Linked DNA regions of Homo sapiens: region 2 is linked to region 1. A link means that fine-mapping ties the variant in region 1 to the expression of a gene that starts in the linked region. Tissue or cell type: stomach. Region 1 holds a variant in brackets; the other region holds the start of a gene. All regions are shown on one strand. Distances are between the middles of the regions.

What was found. PIP is the estimated chance that this variant, and not a neighbour inherited with it, causes the effect.
Region 2: it holds the start of LRCH1, and the variant in region 1 is fine-mapped to the expression of LRCH1 in stomach (GTEx, PIP above 0.99).

What each region holds. Positions count from the first base shown.
Region 1 is chr13:46,014,883-46,022,988 of GRCh38, reverse strand. ZC3H13 (zinc finger CCCH-type containing 13) reads left to right here. Exons shown (of 19, transcript NM_001330564.2): 5 at 2,432-2,540. Among named protein-coding and RNA genes, the nearest start is that of ZC3H13, 34 kb to the left of the region's middle. The variant G/A (reference allele first, on the strand shown) is at 4,695.
Region 2 is chr13:46,549,638-46,557,743 of GRCh38, reverse strand. LRCH1 (leucine rich repeats and calponin homology domain containing 1) reads right to left here and starts at 4,574. Exons shown (of 20, transcript NM_001164211.2): 1 at 4,041-4,574. The coding sequence starts at 4,347. RefSeq lists enhancers at 3,441-3,760, 3,417-4,117 and silencers at 4,321-4,380, 4,441-4,630.

The DNA of each region.
Region 1 (8,106 bases):
AGAGTGGAAATGAAAGTAATATAAACATCTAAAATCATGTATTACATTTCTGAAATTCAAAAAACTTCAAACATTTTTCCTAAGACACAGACATTTGGGAGCAAAACCTGGTCTTAATTGAAATAAATTTAATTACAGTTTTTATACAAGTGGTGAATTTCTGTGTTTTGCTGCAAAAATGTTAGTATGTTTGGTCACAGGCTACTGTTCCAGACTCCACTGGAACAGTAGTACTACTTAATATGCTTTGAAATGCAAAAAAAAAAAAAAATTCTGAACTCTTAAAATATCTGATCCCAAGGGTTTTGGCTAAAATACTGTGGTTCTTCAAGTATTTCAAGACTTAGATGTTCCAGGATGACTAATTTACAACACATAGTAATCAGTAGGTTATACTTTTAATTAATATGTTTGGATTTAAGAGAAGATGAGAAGCCATTCTGTTCAAGAAATACAGCAAGGTGGAATAGTAGACCGTGCTACACTACATTGGACGAGTAATACCATACCCTATTTATTTGAGTATAAGAGAAAAGGGGGAATAACTTTGTTTGATAAAAGGCATAACATACCTAAACAAGTTACACATTGTTGAAGTGGGGGAAATTAGGAAATAAGGTATTTTTTAAATTAGCTAGACCTTCTTAATAAATGTTACCAAAATAATTTCCTATATTATGATTTGAGGTAAGAACTTGAAATTCCATCACCTATTTAAGCCTGCATTCAGTCTCTAGTACCTAATAATAGAAGTTATATATGATCTCTGGGAGTAGCATCAGAGTCATATTGGAAAACATGGACAATTCAAAAATTATAATTTTAATATTTAGGGTAAATATGAAATATTTACAGACATCATTATTAATGACATTTATTGATACAACATTTCTGGCTCTAAATCTGATAAAAAATGTTACAAATTTATAGATTGATTTTGCAGCACCAGCACTACTGCTCTGACACCCTTTTTAACTAGACTTGCAATTGGATTTTACATACTTTTAAGTGGACAGAAAGCACAGAATATGTTATTTAATAATTTGGAGATAACCTCCTATTAAATATTTTTGGTATAGTTATTCAGTAATGTATATTTACAGTGGGTTTAATCCACAGAACATTCAAAAATTGTTTGGGATGTAGGATAGTTCTTCATTGATGTTCCACATAATATGTTTTAAGAGTAAAAGTAAATTATATTTCTTCCTTTTGTCTTCTGTTCAAGTAGAGGCCCATTTCTGTTTTCTTGACTCTTCACCATTTTTTTCATGGCAGGTTTTATTCTCATATAACTTACAAATTATTTTCGTCAGCCTCTGTTGTCTTACCAGCAATCAAATCCAAATTTTGTCAGTAATATTTACAGTATGACTTCATGCCTAAATATGTAGAATTTAGGGGCAGTTATATATACTAGAGTTCTTTAAGAAGAAAACTACAAAGAGAAATTAATTTGTGTTTTAAGCAGCCAAATTTTATGATTAGTAATGCTCAGAAAGAAATTTGAGCACTTAATATCCTTGTGTGTAAGTGTCTTTCATAGTATTTACAATGTTAGTAAAAGTAAGACTTCTGCTGTGGTGGAAGATAACAATTATATAACACTGGTTACTTTTATTTTCTTACCACCTAGTAAAATATGATTTGGAGTTCTTATGTAATAGGACATTTAATTGACTTTTATAATCTGAATTAATTTTGTCCTTTTTTGTGTGTAAGCTGCTTTTATACCTGGAATAAAATGTAAAACCTGTTTTTTAGCAGCAGTAGTGAGGACTAATTTACTATTTTAGGTACCATTTGGTTTCATCAAAATGGGTAAAATATATTTTTGTAAACCTTTATAATACTATTAAATGAGTTTGGATTTATCCTTGGGTGTCTAGGAAAATGACAATTACTTGAATATATGACAAGTCCTAGATCAGTTATTTTTAGAAGTCTGTGGTGAATGGTTTAGCCCTTTTTTGACATTTTAAAATATAATCACTTACAAATCCTTCCATTGTATTTTATTCATTTTAAACTGTCTTTTCCCCAGTGGTTTTCACGTGGAAACTTACTGTGTAGCTGAATGTCACAAGTTTGTTAAAGTATTAGATTTGCATTGTATATTTTTACATCTTAGCTACTCTTTAATATTTAAAGTTTTTGTTCTTTAGTAAAATAGATGTAGTATAGTCTACATCTCTTTTAGTTTTTGTTGTTTAGTAGTTTTTGTTCTTTAGTAAAATGGAGTATAGTCTTTTCATTGTGGTGCTAAACTAGAATTTGTCACTTTCTCTACTTAGTGGATAAGTGACTATTTACAAAACTGATTCTTTGATGAAACAGAGATGAATGAAATTAAAATGTTCTCTTATTACAATAAACTACCTCATAATTTTTAAAAATATAGTAATCTGAATGTATGTATGTACTTTTTTAGAAAGAATCTTCAAGAGGGAGACATAGGGAAAAGGAAGACATAAAAATCACTAAGGAAAGAACTCCAGAAAGTGAAGAAGAAAATGTAGAATGGGAAACTAATAGAGATGGTGAGTTTCAGAATCTTGGTTTAAATGGCGAATTCTTGATTATTTACTTTCTAGAGTTTTCGTGGGCTTCAGAACACCTTTCGACTGTGATCCCTCTCGTTTCAGAATCATTTTATTGACATATTTCTATCTTACTGAATTATAAGGCAAAAACTGGCATATAGTAGCTGTACAAAGGCAGAGAAAGTGGTTTGCATTGCATATTTTTATTTTCCCTTCCTAGTTTTCCCTCTAGAACTTTATTGTGCAGCATTACAGCCCTTCAGGATTGTATTGCATATGTAAATTTAAAAATTCCTAACGCTAAGCTTAAAATGAAATCTATATTTGTTTTACATAAAATATTATAAATGAGATTTTTAAATCTTAAGGACTTGGGAAAGTTATTTCCAAGAAATGTTTGACTTTTATCTTTCAGAAGAAATCAAAATCAGATTAAGATAGAGACCTGGATTTATTAATAAAAAATTAGCAAAAAAATTTTTTTTCTTGAGACATGCTCTCACTGTGTCACCCAGGCTGGAGGACAGTGGTACAATCATGGCTCACTGCAGCTTAGCCTCTTGAAGTCAAGCAGTCCTCCTGCCTGTTATCTCAGCACTTTGGGAGGCTAAGGCTGGAGTACCACTTTAGCCCAGGAGTTTGAGACCAGTGTGGGCAACAAAGTAAGACCCCATCTCTACAAAAAAACAAAGAAATTAGCCTGACATGGTGGTGCATGCCTGTGATCCCAGCTACTTGGGAAGCTGAGGTGGGAGCAAAATCATTTTTGAGTCATCAATAAGCATTTATTTTCCACCCCTTGAATGTTTTCTCCACCTCTTTGATGTTCTGAAAGATGGGCACTGTAATGTCATATTACCAAACACAGAGAAAGAGAACTTGTATTTGTTAAATGCATTGAGTGGGGGTGGACAATTTAATGTAATTTATATAATTGTCTTATTATTTCAATAGCTTTGTTACTCTACTTACAGATGACAAAACTAAAGATCTTAAAAATTTAAGCAACTTTTTCAGTGAGAAGCTGAAAACTTAGACCAGGGATTAGAAAACTAGAGTGTGTGGGCCAGTCACTGGTTTTTGCAAAAAAAGTTTTATTGGAACACAGCCATGTCCATCCATTTGGTTACATATTGTCTGTGGCTGCTTTTGAGCTACAGTGGCCAAGTCGAGTCTTTATGACAGAGAACTGAGAAGCTACAAGACTACAATATTAACTACTATATTTCAGAATTATCTCTGAAGACTTAATAGACTAACAGTTGTAAAGTATTGTAAATACATCTTTCCAGTAATTGTTACATCAGTACTTAAAGGAAACCTGTTCCATCTTTGGACAGTGCTGTTAAAAAATTGCTTCTAAGAACAAATAGGAAACTTGTTTATGGTTACTCAGGATTTCATAATCCAACCTAATACCGCTTCTACAAAATAGCAATAAAGGCAGCTATACTCTCCCATTTTAGTTGACTAGTATATTTAAATAAAATATTATAAACCATAACTGTTCAAGTTTGGAGAGCTAACTTTTCCTAAATACTAAGGGGTTACCTTTTAACACACCCAAGCATCCTTTCTTTTCATTTTAATTTTTTTGCATAAAAAACATTTTAAAATGTATTTGATACTTCTTATCTTTAAAATATTTTCAGTTGTCATTACAATAATTAGTAGTTGTTGAAAATATAAAAGGTTCAGAAAAGCCCAAGTCTGTTCTTTTTCTTCCTGGTAGGTATGTCAAACCTTCTCCATAAATCTATGCTTTCATTTCTCTTTTTTGCTATCTACTAAGCAGAGACAATGGAAATCTTTAGGAATTCCCTCAACTTCCTCCTACCACACCTTCAAACTAAGTTTTTATTTGTGCCTAAACTTTTTTACTTCCCTCTTATTCTGTGTAAGAGGCCTCCTTCCTGCTGTATAAGGTTGATGAATAATTCCCTTGTATTGTAGATCTGATTTCCTCCTGCCTCAGCAATCTTGTTCATTTGTGATACACTCTCTTCTATATCTTTAACATCCATTTTCTCTCCTCCCTATTTTACTGTTAGTCACTATCCTGCTTATCCCCACTTAACAACTAAATTCTTAAAACAGTTCTGTGCCTTACTGTTTCTACTTGATACTGTTTCACCTGATACTTATTATTCA[G/A]TCTTCTGACCCAACTCTCCACTAAAACTGCTTTTCAAAGTCACTAATGACCTCCTCATTGCAGAATAAATGGAGATGTACTTGTTACTATCCTAAATGGCCGTCTGCAGCATTTGACACATCAAGAGCTCCTGTTTTCTTGAAAAAGACTCTTCTTTTGGCTTCTATTTATCACTCTTCAGTTTTGTATCTTCCTGTTCAAGCCCTTCAGTCTTACACGGAGGCTCCTTGTATTCTGTGTGCCCCTTAAATGTTGATTCCCAAGGATTTGCACTTAACTATATTCTTTTAAAAAATCTAAAGTGATTTTATTTCAAGAGCCTTTTATATAGGAAATTCTTTTAAAAGGTGAGTGTAAATGTCTTTAATAAGAATTTCTTATGCTTTTCCTTGATTGAAACGCACAGTTTTTGACCATTGTGTATCTCTGTGATTTGAAAGTATCTGTTGAGGGAATATTGAAGCATTGAGTTAAGTGCCCCACTCCCTGGATAGTGAGACTAAACTGGTTTCATAGACTTACCTTCTGCATTGTTATTCTATCTGGAATAACAATTTTAGCTGGATTCAGAAAAAATTGGTATATTTATAAACTTTCTGGTTTTTAGGCCACTTTTATATGCTTTTTCAGAACCCCCAAATAACTTTTATCCTTGTGTATTTTATGTTTCCATAACTGCCATATTATGAACCTGAGAAAATTTTTTAATATTTATGTATTCATTCATTTAACAATGACATATAAAAATCCATTATATGCTTTTATGAAAAATAACTATTTTGCAAAGCAAAAAATAATAATTGTGAGGAGGTGGCAGTGTTTTGCATCATTTTGCAAATTGTTTTAATATCTGGCTTAATAGTTGATAGGTAGATTTTCTTACCTGCTTCTACATTCCACCTGTTAACCACATCACATATTCTGGGAAACTCCACTATCTACTCATGGGAGAATGAGTACACCAGGCAAACAATGTAGTGTTATAGAAATAGTCTGATTTTGTAGAACTCCTGAAATTGTCTCAGGGACCTCCTAGGTATCCTCAGACCACTCTCTGAGAATCACTTGTCTGTAAGAACAGCTTTTAAAACTTGGTTGTTTTCCTGTTACCTAGCCATCTTCTTTTCTCACTTTCAATTTTTCCTTCTAGATGAAATCATGCACCCAGTGCTTCATTAACGTCGTACGTGTAGTGACTCCAAAATCTGGAGCTCTCAATTTAGCATTGACCAACTGGGCATCTCCATCTGAGTTATGTATCTTAAGGGCATCACTTTTCCTACCAGATACCAACAGTCCTGAGAGTCATCACTGACACTTCTTTCCCTCCACCCAGGCATTACCAGATAGATATTTTTATGTACCCAATACCATTGAAAACCATCTGTTTCTCTTGATATACTACTAATATTCTAGTTCTTAAGGTATTTATTTATTGCCTATAAATAGATTTTACCAAAATAACCTCCTAATCCCATCCCTTGCTTATAGTCTTGTCTCCTAATTAATCCCCCACTTTAAAGCAAGAATAATCTTTCTTACAAAGTTTTTCTACTGAAGTATACTATACGTTCAGAGGAATGCACAATACATGTGTCCAACCCATTGGATGTTCACAGACTGAACACATTTGTAAAACCACTCAAATCAGTAAGTAGGAAATTACTAGTTTCCCATAGTCCCCTTGTGTTTTCTTCTAGTCACTCCTCCCTACCCTCACCCCTCAAAGGTAACTACTGTCCTGATTTCTAGCACCATTGATTAGTTTTGTGTGTTTGAGCTCCATATAAATGGAATTGACAGCATGTACTCTTTTTGTGCCTAGCTTCTTTTGTTAACAGTATTATCTGAGATTGTACTTTATTTCACATATCATTCATTAATTGTTATTGCATCATTCTTATTGCTATATAGTGTTTTATTGTATGAATATGCCATAATTTAGTCTACTGTTGATGAACATTCAAGTAATTCCCAGTTTGGTGCTATTATGCATAATAAGGTGCTATTACTATTCTTAAACATATTTTTTGGTAAACATGTACAGACACATATCAATTTCTCTTGAGTTTATGGTTCGAAGTGGAATTGCTGGGCTGTGGAGTGTGAATGTGTTCCTCTTTAGTAGATAATTTCAGATCAAAAATGGTTGTTCCAGTTAACCATACGGTGTTTTTGCCTTTTTCATCATAGCTGTTCTAAAATTTTGTAGTAGTATCTTACTGTGGTTTTAGTTTGCATTCTCCTAATGAAGTTGAAAACTTTTTCACATGTTCACTGACCATTGTACACCCTATTTTGTGAAGTGTCTGTTCCAAATGTCTGCCGTTCTGCTATTGTGTTACCTGTTTTTTTTTTCTTGTTAATTAGAGGAATTCTTTATGTTTTCTGGATATGAGATTTTTATCAGATATATAAATATATTGTTAGTGTTTTCTCCCACTCTATGAGTTGCAGAACAGTCTTTTAAAAGAATAAATTGAATGTTCATTTTATTTTCCTGTTTCAAATTCCCTAATTTCCCATTGCCTTCAGGAGCAAGTACAAATTCTAACTACGCCTATAAAACTTTTGATTATCTGGTTACTCTTTGTATTTCCAGGCCCCACTCCGAAGTCTGTGGTTTTTATTTGGTTCCTTAAACTTCTTGTATTTGTTCATCATGTGTTCTTAAGGACCAATGAAGTAACATAAAAAGTAAAAGTATCATTGCAGTAGAATGTGTGAAAATATTTTGGTAATCTTGGAGGTTAGTACATCCTCCTTAAATAGGGCATAAAACCCAGAAGCCACAAACATTTGATTACATAAAACTAGGAGTTTCTGTGTAACTAAATGCAGAAGTTAAAAACAGATGAAATGGTAAAAGAAAATACTTGACATGTGTAACGTGTAAGCATTAGTAAAGATACTATATAGACATATAATGAGTTTCTACAAATACATAAGAAAAAGACGGCCTAGTTAAAAAATGAGTAAAAATATATATGTATCAGATAGGTAACTCACAGGAGAAATAGAACTGGCCAATAAATGCTCAATCTTACTGCAGGGAAATACTGATGAAAATAAAGAGATATGATTACTCACCCATTCGTTTGGCAGAAATGAAGAACATTAATGTTTTCAAGTGGGGGTTTACATTGGTAAAGGAGTTTTGGAGTACAGTTTGGTGTTATTAGAAATAGAAATTATACTTATTTTCAGTCTAGCAATGTAGTCTGAGAAATAATGTCATAGAAAAATACTTGCACTTGAACCAAAGTATATATCAAAATGTTCATATAAGTCTTGTTTTTAACAGCAAAATACTGGAAACAGTTCATCTGTCTTTAAGAAGGAAACTCTTTTAAGTAAGCTACGATAAAGTATGATCATATTAATGAAATGCTTTGCAGACGTTAAAATGAA
Region 2 (8,106 bases), 530 kb before region 1:
AGCCTCCTGAGTAGCTGAGATTACAGGCACATGCCACCATGCCCGGCTAATGTTTGTATTTTCAGTAGAGATGAGGTTTTACCATGTTGGTCAGGCTGGTCTCAAACTCCTGACCTCAGGTGATCCACCCACCTTGGCCTCCCAAAGTGCAGGCGTTACAGGAGTGAGCTATCGTGCCTGGCCTAATATTTTATTTTTCGTAGAGATGGGGTCTCACTATATTGCCCAGACCGTTCTCAAACTCCTGGGGTCAAGTGGTCCTTCCACCTAGGCCTCCCAAAGTGCTGGGATTACAGGTGTGAGCCACAGTGCCTGGCCCATAGTCTTTCCTGCTTAGAGCCAACTCAAAAAGATAATTAGCAATGAAATATTCCCCACTTTCCTTAACAAGACTTTCAACAAGTGTCCTGCATGCCAAGTCTAAGGGCTTCTTTTTTATTTTCTAGAACCTCCTGCAATCAGCCACTTTCTTTTCTTACTCCTTTTCAATTCACTTTTAATTGTACAAAATACCCTTTTGAACTTCTTCATTCAAAACGACACTACTTAATAAATCAGCACCAAAAAAAAAAAAAATTTGCTTTACTCATATGCAAATTTGTGTACTTGTTTTTCTTTGGCCCAATTTTATGCTTCAGATTATATGTATTACTAGTCATCATTTATACTCTTGCTACAAGCCACCTGAAGTCAATACAAAGCAATCTGTGTATTTATAAAACAAAGATATTCCATCTATCCTGTAACTCATCCTATTTATCCTGCAAAATCAATTTATTCATGTATCTCTCTATTCTCCAACTAGAATGAACTCCACAAGAAGGGATACAGGGATTCTCTTTTGGTCACTGTTGTGTCCCCAGTGCCTAGATCAGTGGCCAGCACTCAGAGGGGCTCAGTACATTCTTGTGGAATCAATGCTGGTTGAATGAATTTCCAGGAAGCCTCCCAGATTCTATCTCTCAACCCCTTCCCTCTGCTTGATGAGAATATGGTCAAGAACATGAATTAACGTGAGGCTGCCAGGGTTCCAATCACCGGTTGACCATCTCAGTAGAGGTATAATCTTCAGCATATTATGTAACTTGTCTCTGTCTCAGTCTTCCCATGTATAAATGAGGGTATGACTGGGCTCCTAGTGGGGACTAAGATCATGCAGATAACGCATAGAGAGGCGCACCCAGTGCTGATAGTGGCTCTTCTGTTTTGTCCCTTTCCATCAGTGACACCTGTGTCACTCACTGCACCTGCGTGGATCAGTCTTTCTTTCCCCGTTTCACCTATTAAAAGACTAGACTCTGACAACAAAACTTATTTTGATTCAAATAGAAGTAAATTAATAGGCTCAAAATGAGAGCTTGAATTTTTTCCTATCAATAAAGTATATGCACTTGAGTGACAGCTTAGACATCTATTCTATGTTTCTTTGTTTACATCTTGGTTTTCCACTCTGTTCAGATGGGCTATATTGCCCAGGTGCAGTTCTGCACAGGTGGCTGCCAGAAGCCTGACTTTTTACAAGGCGTAAACCAAATGGCCTGTAATATACAACAAAACTGTGAGAAAAAGCTTGCTCTACCACTCCCTGTCTTAGAAAATATATGGAAAAAAAAATCCACTTTGCCTCTTAGGCCTTTAAGGATCTTCATATGCCATTCTAATTTTAAGAGACATTCTTAAAGTAAATATGAGTCAAGGAGAAACCACTATCTTTATTATAAATGTTACTACTCAAACTTTCAACTGTACTAGAACTCTTACATGTACGCTGTGTCAACACTGTGTACACCGGAGGTAACTTTAACTCTTTATTTTGCTTTCTGGTCTCTCAAATAAGAAACTGTGCTCAATTAAATTTATCTTTAGAACAAAGAGTACATGTGGTTTACACCTAGCTTTTGACCTGAGGCAAAGACGTTTTGCAGAAGCAAATATTTAATACATTTGGGTATTCTAATTTCATGTAAAATAACTAGCTGCAATGAATACTTTTCTGATGGGGTTGACTTAAGTTTCTACAAACATGAATATCCCTCCACTCCTCTTCCCCCAAATAATACTGTATTTTTGGATGAGGAATTAACATAAAGCCTCTGAATTTTAACCAGTTAGATTTTCCTGAGCATAAAACATGTGCAAGTGAGCTCATAAATAAAAACCTGCAAAACTCACAACTTAAGCTTGCCATAAACAAGCCAACAAGAACACTTTCAGCATCCACTTCACATGGCGAGGTCTTAGCTAAAAGATGTGATCCCTAAAAGCACTGGTCTTCTCAAAGAAATGCCAACACAGCAGACACATCAAGTTCACCTAACTTTGTAAATAATCCTTAGCATAACTGAAGTAGAACAACTATGAAGCCCCCTTACTGAACTACACAAACCTATTATTATTAGTCATGCCAGCTCTATTTTCTGCAGATATAGCCAACCATAGCATAGCTAGCTCACGGTACACTCTATAGCAGAAGGGAAGTAAAATTTAATGTAGTTTTTTAAGTCAGTGATTCAGGCAATTCTTGGAATAAGTTCCACTTGAGAAGATGTAACTAAGAGGTCTTATTGAAAGACACTCCCCAGCTGTTGACAGCTCAACTTTGGAAATTCCCTCTTTTTTGCCGATTCCTGACTATCCCTAAATCCAAATTACAAAGTTTAATGACCCTGGAGAGCCATCTTTGCCTCCAGTGAACTCAGAACTGTATCTAAATATTCATTAAGGCTCTAGATAAATGTTTATTGAATTAAAAGGGGGAAAAGACACTGGAAACCTAGCCTCCAAAAACCCACTGCCTGCTCCCTTGCCCACTACAAGATTAAACTGGGTGCTCCTGTGATGAGAGTCAACCCATCCAAGACCCAGGGGGTCTGACCCTGGGCCATGAGGCGATGACAGCCAAGAGGTCTGGGCAGCGGCTCCAAAACGGAGCACCCACTGCCCTGGGAAATGTTGGGCGCTTGCTATGACACAAACCCTCCCCCAGGGAGCGGAACCGGATGGCCGGAAACCAAGTCAGTTCTGTATAGACCCTAAGGCCCCAATCCTATTCCACCACCCTCCTTCCTGTTTATAGATCCCGCTCCTGGAACTCCAACTACCAAAGAGAAAGCAGACGTTTTAGAAGTATGTAACACATGACGTAACTTGAAAAAGTTATGCTGCTTATTGGCGCGAGTTACAACTTGCCGGGCTCACACAGGAAAACAGGCTCACGTTAATTACTTTGCCTTTAATATGCCACGCCGTCCTTTCCTGGGGCCCCCGCAACGGTTGGGTAACTGAGAACCAGGTAGCCTCGGTGGTAGGACCCAAACTGTGTGGGCGGTGAGCAAAAGGCACGGAAGGAAGAGGGCCGATCGCTTCCGAAGCGGCAGCCGACTGGGATTCACTACAAGCCCGGCGGCTCTTTTCCCGCACAAGCGCAGGGAGAGGAAACTTGGGCACCTCACAGGCGGCACCGAGTTGCCCGATCGCTCGGCGATGTCGCCGAGGGGGCTCGCGGCACTGCGCCGATGCCCCTGGCTCGGCCGAGGGCGTGCCACCTTTGTCTGGGTTTCCCCACCAGGATGGGCTACGCCTCGATGCAAAGACGGCTTGAACTGGTTGGAGGCGCCGACGCCGCTGTCCGCGCTGGAGTTCCCAGCCCTGCGCGGGGCCCAGGAAGCCGACACAGCCGCCTGAAACCTCCCACTTACACTGCGCGCACGCGGCGCGCCTGCAAGTCCCAGCCCCGCGGTTACTTCCCTGGCGCGGCAGCCACAGGGTGGAGAGCCGGAGACCCCTCGCTCTCAGGCGCAGAGGCCCGGCGCACCCCTGCCCTCCTGGCACTGCATCGCCGGACCAGGCAGGGCCCCCGTGCCCTCTCCAGGGCCCGCTTCTTCCGCGCCCACGCGAGTCCCTTCTTCGGGAGACAACGGGCCGATGGACCCTCCCTCCCCCAGCAAGACAAGATCTCCGACTGTCCACCGCGTTAGGGAACGCACGACAGACACCCAGACAGCACCCACACCCCTGCCCGCCCCTCGGCCCTCACTCACCTGCCTGCACCGTGTCCGAGAGGTCGTGCCCGGGGGCTGCGGTACGGGGAAATTCCTTCAATTTCCTGGCGCTCAGGTTCAGCCCCCCGGAGTTGGCCGCCTCCTCAAGCGCGCGCTCCAGACCCCGGTTCAAGGGCAGGTTGAAGCCCCCGCTGCCACCGCCGCCACCACCCGCCCCGCCGGGGGCGCCGGTTCCTCCGTGGTGCTGATGGTGGTGGTGGTGGTGGTGGGGATGATGAAGTGGGTGCAGAGTAGCTACCGAAAGGGCCGGGACGAAAGGTTGGGGTTCGCTTCCCGGCGTCGCCATCTTCTCCCGGGCCCCCCCACCCCGCCCCGCCGCTCCTGCGGGGGGGTCACAGCGTTCCCCGCGAGGGGAAAACGGCAGCTCGGGCTGAGTGCCGCAGTGCTCCACCGAAAGGCGCTGGAAGGAGGGGAGGAGGGTGTGGGCAGGCGCGTAGAATGGGGGGCGGGCGGGGAGGCGGCCGTGGCAGCTCGGTCTTGAAGGTTTCCTGTCCCCGGGAAGCTAAGGACTGCGGCGGCGGCGGCGGCGGCGGCAGCGCGCATGTGTCTCCTCCCGCCCCTGCGCCCTCCCCCCGGCTGCTCTGCCCTCCTCCGCCGTCTGCTCTCTCCTCCTCCTTCCCCCACGCAGTCTGCCCCGCCTGAGCCTTCCTCCGCGCCTATTCTGCCGGCCGCCGCCGCCTTGCCGCGATCCGCCCCGCAATCGGGTACACGGCGGGGCTGGACGTCTGCTCCGGGGCAACTGAGGCGCCGAACCTCTCTCTGGGCGTCCTTTTGCCGCCCAGGAGGCTTTAGGGGACTGGAGGTTGCGGGGATAGGGGGGTGGTCTGAGAACACGGATAAAACGGCGGGAGGCAATGAATGGGATTTACAGTACAGTGAGGTTTGGGGCAGGAGAGGGTTCTCTCAATTCTGCGATTTATTCTGGCCGTTTAACCCAGAGATCCCCAAGAGGCAGTTTTCATTCACTATGGGGTCATCCCTGCAGATGCCCCCTGGCATTTGGGCGCTTACAATGAACCAGACGCTTGTTTAGGGAGTCTACGTAAGTTACCTCATTAATCCAGGGACCCCAGGAGTGCCAAAGTTGTTCCCCTGAGTCTACAGAGGAAGTTAATAAATGTATCTAAGGTCACCCCTGCAGTTAGAGGGGCGCTAGATTCGAGCTAGGGCCCTCAGAATCTAGGGTTGCCCTCCTTCACAGTGTACCCCTGGGCCAGACGCCAGCGCCAAGGGACGAATACGAGTGGGACAGAGTGTTTGCTGAGCGGCAGAAGAAAGCTACAGACATAGGAAAGAAAAACTCAAAATGAGGGCAGTGTTTATGGGGGACAGAAGACATTGTCGTAGGAGAAAGATGAGCTGGCTGCTCCCCGAAATTGGGTGGTGCCAGGAGAGGCTAGAAAGCCAGTGACCCCAAACAGCAAATCAGTCACAGCTCGAGTCTGAGCTGAAAGAACCATCGAAGTCTCCTTGTGCCCTTCTTCTTCCCGCTTTGGGGCATGGAAACGAACATGTCCGCTTGCAAGTGAATTCACATTCTGCCATCAGCCACCCAGTGGCACCCAGGCCAATGCTGGCACACCAGGGGCGACAGAGAACATCTGACACCCTAAGGGCAGACCAGCTGGACGATTAATAGAATACCATTCCTTTCCTGAAGTTAAAGCTTCATGTCCAACTTTCCAGGGCCTTTATTTTTGCTCTATTCTTAAGGCTTGATTGTCCCCTATGAGCGACTTGGCTTGGGGAAAATGAGTCGGGGGGTGGGTGCGGGGTTGTCGGGGTGTCAAGCACGAAAGTAATGCAACCCTTGGAGTAGGGGAGCTGGTTTTTTAAGTGGTAATACATAAGTTTGATGGCCTAGACAACAGGCTGGAACTGGTGACTTCATGGACTCGGCACTTAAGTATGGCATGATCTGTGTCACTTGAATTGACTGCACAGATAGTTGCCCTTAATTCCTGCGGGATTCTTGGCCCTGAGCAAAGCATTCTAATCTGCCCGGAGGAGACACGCGCCACCTGCTGGTATCCTCCCGCAAACCTCCCCTCTCACATGCCATTCGCCGCAGCCTTCCAGGCTTTTAAAAGTCCGGCTTCAAAATTCATAATAATAACGACAATAATAATAAATGAAAGTATACTTCCATCACAAAAAAGTAACCAAATTTCCACTTTCCTCCAGGGAGAGGAACAGAGAAAAACAAAATCCAGTGAAAAACAGAAACACAGAAAAAAATCCAATTAAAAGAATCTTCAGCTGAAACCAGGTGGTAGTCTGTGTGATCAGCAGTCAGGACATGATTTGGGACATCTTCTGGCTGACTGCAAATTTAGTTCAGACTAAGAGTCGTTGTGATGCATCATAGGAAGCATACATATTTTTTTAAAAGACCACTAATTCTTCTTTAAAGAAAATAATGGATTGCATATGAGCCCACGATTTGCTTTTTAACAAATGATCAGTCCCTCTGTTAGATTGACCTACTCATTGTGGTTTGTTTACCCATCTACAGATTACTAAACTGTAAATTCCATGAAATAGGGACCTATTCATCTTTGCAACTCTCTCCCCATGCCTCAGAATCGAGGGGAGTACTTTGTATATAATGAGTGCACAATTAATATTAGTAATCAATTAAGTATTGCATAATAGACCATGTGTTTAACAGGTTTGCCACCTGTTGATATGTCCTTTTTTATTTGTATAAATTTATGGGGTACTTGTTGATACATCTTTAAAGTTTCAAATGATTTCCCTGAATGAAGGAGTTTTTCTTAAAATGGGAGAGAGTACTTGACCCTTGAAAATGATCTTGATTATTTCTAAATATTAAAGAAACTCGACAAGCCATTTCCCCTTGCTGTCTTGCTTCTTCACTATTTCTTCAAGAAGATGGACATCTCTCTTTTGTTTAATACCCTGTTTACTTATTCTGAAAACAGCACCCTTTTGCTATTAAGGGCAGGAATCAGGCCCTTTTAAAAAAATCCGCTGCCTGGAAGATTCAACAAATAATGTTGTCTGGCTGAGATATTTGATGCAACTAGTAACATCAACATGAATTTCTCTGAAGATAAATAATATGTGTTTCAGGATTTTTCTATGTGAATCAGCTAGTTGATGAAAAAATGACCCTGATAAAATGAGGAAAAAAAAATAGGACAATGTCCTGAGTTTTTCATGAACCTGAATGTATTTAATTTCAAAAATTATATATAATTGTGAGGCTGTGCCTTCACTATTTTTTTTTCTGATGAAAAAAAAAAACCAAAACAATGGTAACAATAAATTGTAGTGTTTTTTAAGTATCCTTTTTCAAAAAATAACAAAAGGAGGTTACTAAAGTCAGTTACCAATTATTTTGATGTTGTTTATCTCTGAAATCAAAAACTCTGGGAACTACTGTACTTGCTGAGACCCTTGGTTTTCTTAAAAGGAAGTTAGTCATACATAAGTCTAGTCACCTGCTTTCAAGCATTTTCTTAAGCTGTGCTCACATCAACTAATCTTCTTTTCTTTTTTTTTTTTTTTTTTTTTTTTGAGATGGAGTCTCACTGTAACCTCCACCTCCCATGTTCAAGGGATTCTCCTGCCTCAGCCTCCCGAGTAGTTAGGACTACAGGCACCTGCCACCATGCCTGGCTAATTTTTTTTTTTTTTTTTTTTTTTTGGTATTTTTAGTAGAGATGCAGGTTCAACACATTAGCCAGGCTGGTTTCAAACTCCTGACCTCAGGTGATCCACTCACCTTGGCCTCCCCAAAGTGCTGGGATTACAGGTATGAGCCACTGTGCCTGGCCCCTTTATTTATTTATTTATTTATGGGACAGTGTCTCGCTCTGTCGCCCTGGCTGGAGTGCAGTGGTTCAATCCCGGCTCACTGCAACCTCCGCCTCCCAGGTTCAAGCAATTCTCCTGTCTCAGCCTCCCAATTAGCTGGGACTACAGTTGCACACCACCATGCTGGGCTAAATTTTGTATTTTAGTAGAGACGGGGTTTCACCATATTGATCAGGCTGGTCTTAAACTCCTGACCTCAGGT